2 linked regions of the Homo sapiens genome follow. The protein of the gene in region 1 interacts with the protein of each later gene in a pairwise test. Each region holds a gene or a part of one and is shown on either strand. Other genes may lie near its edges.

What was found. The genes of interacting proteins can lie anywhere in the genome.
Region 2: the proteins of MAP2K1 (region 1) and WNK1 interact in a two-hybrid assay, tested with the Homo sapiens proteins (one large-scale study listed by BioGRID and IntAct).

The regions. Positions count from the first base shown.
Region 1 is NC_000015.10:66,480,912-66,484,411, reverse strand, and holds part of MAP2K1 (dual specificity mitogen-activated protein kinase kinase 1), read right to left. Parts: intron 2,658-3,500; coding exon 2,533-2,657; intron 1-2,532. UniProt on the Homo sapiens protein: Dual specificity protein kinase which acts as an essential component of the MAP kinase signal transduction pathway.
Region 2 is NC_000012.12:895,578-899,269, reverse strand, and holds part of WNK1 (serine/threonine-protein kinase WNK1), read right to left. Parts: intron 3,200-3,692; coding exon 2,538-3,199; intron 1,792-2,537; coding exon 1,589-1,791; intron 1-1,588. UniProt on the Homo sapiens protein: Serine/threonine-protein kinase component of the WNK1-SPAK/OSR1 kinase cascade, which acts as a key regulator of blood pressure and regulatory volume increase by promoting ion influx.

The DNA.
Region 1 (3,500 bases):
CTTTGGGAGGCTGAGGCAGGCGGATCACATGAGATCAGGAGTTCGAGACCAGCCTGGCCAACATAGTGAAACCCCATCTCTACTAAAAATACAAAAATTAGCTGGACATGGTGGTGCATGCCTGTAATCCCAGCTACTTGGGAGGCTGAGGCAGGAGAATCACTTGAACCCGGGAGGCAGAGGTTGCAGTGAGCCAAGATCGCACCACTGCACTCCAGCCTGGGCAAGAAGAGCGAAAACTCCATGTCGGAAGAAAAAAAGGTGGGGGGGGGTGGTGGCTGATGATGATGAAAATGACAGTAACAATGATATAAGAAAACTCTACTTAGGATTACTAAGAAGATCAAATCAAATGAAAATGTACAGCCAGGCGCGGTGGCTCATGCCTGTAACCCCAGCACTTTGGGAGGCCGAGGTGGGTGGATCACAAGGTCAGGAGATCGAGACCATCCTGGCTAACACGGTGAAACCCCGTCTCTACTAAAAATACAAAAAAATTAGCCGGGCGTGGTGGCACACGCCTGTAGTTCCAGCTACTCGGGAGGATGAGGCAGGAGAATGGAGTGAACCTGGGAGGCAGGGCTTGCAGTAAGCCGAGATTGCACCACTGCACTCCAGCCTGGGTGACACAGTGAGACTCCGTCTCAAAAAAAAAAAAAAAAAGAAAATGTATGTCAAATGTTGTAAAATGCAATACAAATATTGGTTGATATTGGTGGGAAAAGCCAAAGAGAAAAAAAGTATACAGTGCTATACAAAAGCATTATTTTTAATGAGCATTATTTGAAATAGCACATGTATTTCAAGAACCCTACCGAAAAAATCTTTATTCTGCCCATAGTATATTCACGTAGACATTAACTTCTCCAGTAGCATTTTTCACTAACTCCAACACTGGACTATTTCGTAACTGACCATATAACCACAAAAACCCCAACCATTAAACCCTTGATTAGTAACTCCCAGGGCCTGTTAATGGATTTTGAACTTGAGAGTTGGCAGTCAAATGGCCCAGGATGCCAGCTGCTCAGTTATTAGACATTTAGGGAAGAAGCAATGAGGAGATGACAGAGAAAGAGAGTTCCACTGTGGGTCACTGGAGGGGAGGGGTGGGGATGTGGGTCAGTGCCAGGTGAGTGATGTTGACAGTGGCTGGAGTCACAGTGGGGGGTAGGTGCCAGCAAGAAGGAATGAGGATGTGTTCACACTGGGATCTGGGCACAGGTGCCAAATCCTCCCCAAGAGGCAAATGAGGGTGTGCTGTGCAAAGGGCGTCTGCCTGGCAAGGGGGCAGCTAGCTTTCAATCCTGGCTCAGCAAGGTTAAGTAGGCAGGTTGCTTAACCTCCCTGAATCTAGACTTCCTCACCTCTAAAATGGGAACAATAATCTTTATTTCCTGGGACAACCACATGGATCAAATGAGACCTTCCAGGGACATGACATGTGCTTTGACAGAGAACACATAAAATGCTTTGTACAAGTTAAGATCTGAGCCTCTGCGCCTGTCCCCCTCTCCACGCGGGCCTGCACTCCCCGCCACTTCTGTAAAGACTGCCTACTCACTCCAACGCTCCTCCACTTTGCCGCACTTCAGCACTGGCCCAGACTCACGTTTCCACCTTTCCAAATCATTCTCAGAAATGTTTTATCCATGTACCCTCCCACTCAGCCAACTAAACATCTACCCACTTGCCAAGCATTCCCTGAACACCTACCACATGCCAGGCCCCATGCCAGGCACTAGGGACAAGAGAGACACCTTGTCCCTGTCCCCAAGGAACCGGTGGTATGGAGGAGGGAAGAAAACACGCTGGTGCTGCCATAGTGTGAGGATGGCCCCACACAATGCTCTGGTGACAGTGTGAGCCAGCAGAGCCAGGAGCAGGAGGAAATACCCTCAACACAGGGTGTTGGCTGAAGTGGAGCAGAGACTCTGGCGAGGGGTCCAGGTATGCTGCAGTTAGAAGGAGGGGTACATGTCTGACAGACATAGTGAGGAGGGAGAAAAGAGGCTGGACAATTCTGAACAGACTCTCAGGAGTTGGGAGCTACAAGATACTGAAAGGACGGGCTGCTGAGAAGGCAGGTTAAGAGCCAATGCTCAGGTTTCTACCTTGGGAAACCAGGGAGATGATGCTGTCTATTTACTGCTAAGAGAAAAGGAGAAGGTGAGGTAGTTTGGGGTGGATTATATCTGAGCATCCTGGGTTTGTGGATCTGAAGACTATCATGTAGAGATGCCCAGAGGGGAGCTGGAGCTCACAATCCTTCAGAAAGAAAGCCACACTCTGGAGCTGGACAGTCCTTTCAGTGAGTCAAGGCCCCAATATCCCAGTTATGCTCCAAGGCCTAAGAAAGACCAAGACCATCTTCCCATTCAACTTCATCTCCTCAGGGCAGAGCACTGTGCCTCCTCCCTCACTTCTTGTCCCCTACCCAGCACAAGACTCTGGCTCCACAGGAAAGGCACCCACTGGGCTCCTCTCCCTGACCGTACAAGAAGCTCAAGCAATGGAAACTTCTGTTCATACCGACATGTAGGACCTTGTGCCCACGAAGGAGTTGGCCATGGAGTCGATGAGCTGCCCGCTGACCCCAAAGTCACAGAGCTTGATCTCCCCACGGGAGTTGACTAGGATGTTGGAGGGCTTGACATCTGCAGGGAAGAGAAAATAGAAAAGGAGGGAACTGACACAGGTAGATTGGGGAAGAGAAGGATCAGCATTCCACACAGACCAGCCCTGACCACGAGTCCCAGGACCACACCCCCGTCCGCCATCAGAGGCAGCCCTTGGCTTGCAAACACTGTACACCAAGGCCCTTTGTTCTGAGTTCAAGAAGCAACTGTCAGGAGATGAAATGAGCAGCTGCTGTAGAAGTAGAACAGAAAGACAGTCGATTTCCACTCTCTAAGAATGCAGACTTGGCCAGATGATCCACAGGAAGGAGTCCGTTATCATGAACAGTCAGGATTTCAAAGTCTGTTGCTTCAACCACCCCTACTGGTAAGATATAGTATCTATGGCTGGATCATGAAGGAGGCAGAAAAAAACAAGTAATAAGACCTATCTGCTTGCTGAGGCTACACAGGCTAGAAGGGGACAGGGTTTGGCGGGAATTCCCATTCTAGACTTCTGCACCAGGCATGGAGCATGTGGGTCTTTTTCTTACAAATATGTGTGGCAGGGTGGGAGCTGAGTCATGATTCCATTCCATTCCACTGGAGTCACTCACCTAACAGCCTACACAGGTACATCTACCCTGCCAGTCAAGGGGAACCCCTTGCTACCTGGAGCTGGAATGTGAGAGGCCTTAAAGCTGCTCCTCAGAGTCAAAACGATGCCCCCATCCCCCTTCCTTGCACTCTTATTATCACCCCATCCCACCCATCCGGTCACTGTCACAAATACCAGTACATTGGCCCTTAGTTTGCAGAGACCTAAATTTCCAAACATTTTTTCTTCCGCTGTATCCTCTGATTCATACAACTGTCCTGTAA
Region 2 (3,692 bases), on another chromosome or scaffold:
TGATTTCTCTTACAATCACATCTCTACTAATGGGCTGCATGAACTGGCCCTAATGTGCTACATTTGGATATCTGTGAACCTTTCCAGAGAATGGAACTGCTAAGAAGTTTGCAACTGCTTTTTAACATATTTTAACCTTCTTTTACTTTTCAACTAATTGTGTTAACACTACCATAATTTCACCAAAGGATTAGAAACTCTCTATCTATCCCAATTAAAATATAGTCCAGGGCCGGGCACGGTGGCTCACGCCTGTAATCCCAGCACTTTGGGAGGCCAAGGTGGGTGGATCACCTGAGCCAGGAGTTTGAGACCAGCCTGGCCAACATAGTGAAACCCCATCTCTACTAAAAATACAAAAATTAGCCAGGCATGGTGACATGTGCCTGTAATCCCAGCTACTATGCGGGGCTGAGGCAGGAGGATCACTTGAAACTGGGAGGCGGAGAATGCAGTGAGCCGAGATCGTGCCACTGCACTCCAGCCTGGGCAACAGAGCGGGATTCTGTCTCAAAAAAAAAATTCAAAGTTAGCAGGGCATGGTAGTGTGTGCCTGTAATCCCAGCTACCCAGGAAGCTAAGGTAGGAGGACCACCTGAGCCTAGGAGTTTGAGGCTGTTGTGTTGTGTGCTATGATCACACCACTGCACTCCAGTCTGGGCAACAGAGTGAGGCCCTGTCTCTTAAAATAAATAAATATATATATATACTACATTACAAAAGAGTATCACTTAACTATTTCTTTGATTTTAATGACTAGCAAGTTCTTCTTTTTTTTTTTTTTTTTGAGACAGAGTCTTGCTCTGTCACCGAGGCTGGAGTGCAGTGGTGCAATCTCAGCTCACTGCAAGCTCCGCCTCCCGGGCTCATGCCATTCTCCTGCCTCAGCCTCCTGAGTAGCTGGGACTATAGGCGCCTGCCACCATGCCCACCTAATTTTTTTATTTTTAGTAGAGACAGGGTTTCACCGTGTTAGTCAGGATGGTCTTGATCTCCTGACCTCGTGATCTGCCTGCCTCAGCCTCCCAAAGTTCTGGGATTACAGGCGTGAGCCACCGTGCCTAACCAATGACTAGCAAGTTCTTTAACCCAATATAAATGAAATAAAAACCTTAATCAAGAAGTTACCACTTAGACATACACACAAATATCTATATGACGATTACATTCATCTAAGTTGCAATTATGACTAAGTCATCCATTAAAACAAAGAATCTACCCAAGTTTTACTAAACAGAGAATAATGTATTTTCTTCCAACTGCCCAAGAGTTTGGTTAAATGTGAGTTATACGAGTTAACAGGCAAAGCTAAATGTCTATCCTTAAGAATAACTATAAATAAAGATTACCAGTAGATAGCAATATGGATTACAATGGAATAAGCCATTGTATTCACTAAGTCTACTTCTATAGACTCAAAAAGAGGTACAATAAATGTAAGTACAGCAGTCAAGGAAGCAAAAATATCAGGAGAGCCAAATTCCTTTGAAATTTAACAAAAACAACAAATGTTCAGCAGGTCACATACAGCTGGAGACAGAAACAAAAGATAGGACAGCTGTGGCTGACCTAGTCCAGGGCTTTTTACCTGAAAGCTGGGGGCTTTTATTCCCCAAGGAACTGCTTCGACTAGATTTGCTGCCTTTGCTTTTAGTGGGTCGTCGTCTTCTCCCTGAAAGGGGAGCAGCTGGGGGAATAATAACAGCAGGGGGCACCTTGCCCAGTTTGGTATACAAAGATTCAATTTCATGCTTCTGGCGACTCTGCAGGTCCTGAATCTCTTTGAGATGTCTGTGAAAGATAACCAAACATAATTCAAAATACCATAATCCTCTTCATTCAGACAAGAATTAACAGCATATTCCTAAACCTGCTTTCAAGTATGTAGTAGTTACTAATGAACCTTTTCCCCAAATGTACTACCACGAGATTCTAGTTTGTCAACTCACCTTGCTGGCCTGCATTACCCAAGCCATGTTCCAACAAGCTCCTAGCCAACAACAAATGGTTGATAATGTTTTAGGAGAAAAACATTTCCTGACTTTTGAGGCCACGCACACAATAGCTGAATTTGCTACTCTGACCCAATCTGCCAAACAAAACGTGCCAAATAATCATACATCCCAGTGCCAGATTCATTTAGTGGACTAATAAATAAAGAGCAGTTAATAGTGATACAATATGCTATTAATAAAAATAATAATACAATACAGTAACAATAATACAGTAATAATATAGTAACAATGAAGAAGTTCTAGAACTAGAAATGCTATGGGTCTGTATGAGTGCAAGAGAAGCTGCCTGTGCCTGTGAGTCAGTGGTTGGGAATCGTGTGTGTGTGTGTGTGTGTGTGTGTGTGTGTGTGTGTGTGTGTGTGTGTGTGGTGGGGAGGTATGGGGTGGGGCTTCTGTGGCACTGTCTCTTTAAAAGAAATGAGACATTAGCATATTGTGGCGAAAAATATTATTAATCTTGGCCCTGGGATCTAGGTCTGAAAACCTTATCTGACATTCTTTCACAAGAGAAAATATACTTACTTATCTCGTAGTCGTCGCAGCTCTAACTTTAAGTCTTCATCTTCGATATCTGACTCATTGTCGCTACTCATGTAAGAGGAGTTAAATGAATTACTAAGGCTTTGACTTAGATTCTGGCTAGGAAGGCTCTTTGAGCTCAGCTGATGGGGCGAGTGTGGACTACCGGAACCATCATCCACATCCCTACTTAAAAAAGCGGCCTCCGGGTCAGAAGACGGCCCATTTAGATGTGAAGGCTCTGACAGTTCAGGCTTCTCTTTCTTTGGTATCACAGCAGGAAGAACAGCTTGTTCCAAATCCATAAAAGGAGGAGATGCCACTGGTCCTTCTTTCTTTGTGTCAGTGATCTTGTCCTCAGTTTTTGATACAGAGAAACGACCCACTTTGTTTGCTGTAGTTGTCACCTGAAAACGTCCAACCTTGGTAGGCTGCCCAGTGTCTGACTTTGCCTCTGAGGCAGTAGTTTTGTGGGCACTCTCTGGCACATCTGAAGAGATACCAGGGATGGTTATGCCATTCGGCTCTGGTTTCACCAAGGTACTCTCTGGACTACTACTTGATAGCACTGAGGACTCTGAGGTGCTGGATTCAAAATGAACAGACTTTGCATCTTCTGACTTATTTTTACCCTCTTTCTGGGCACCGTCTGCTGCAACAGAAACCTGATAAAAAAGGACAAAGATTAAAAACTTAAGTTCTCAATATCCAATTTCTATCACAGACAATTTAAAAAAGGAAAAAAAGAATCACTTTATTTCCCTGTCAAAGAGTAGGCTGATTGTCTCTTTACATAGCGCCTCCACTTTTGACTAGGAAGAAAAATTGAATACCATCATAGAGAACACATGGGTACTGAGATGCAGATTCTGTGTGGCTGGCTACGCTTATAAAGTAAATAATTTACTTTCGTATTTGATGTCATACACAGAATTCAGATTTATGTCTTAGTCAACATATACATAACAAAAGGTCAGGGCCAGGCATAGTGGCTCATGCCTGTAAGCCCACCATTTTGGGAGGCTGAAGCAGGTGGATCACTTGAGGTCAGGAGTTTCAGATCAGCCTGGCCAACGTGGTGAAACCCTGTCTCTACTAAAAATACAAAAATTAGCCAGGCATGGTAGCGTGTGCCTGTAATCCCAGCTACTTGGGAGG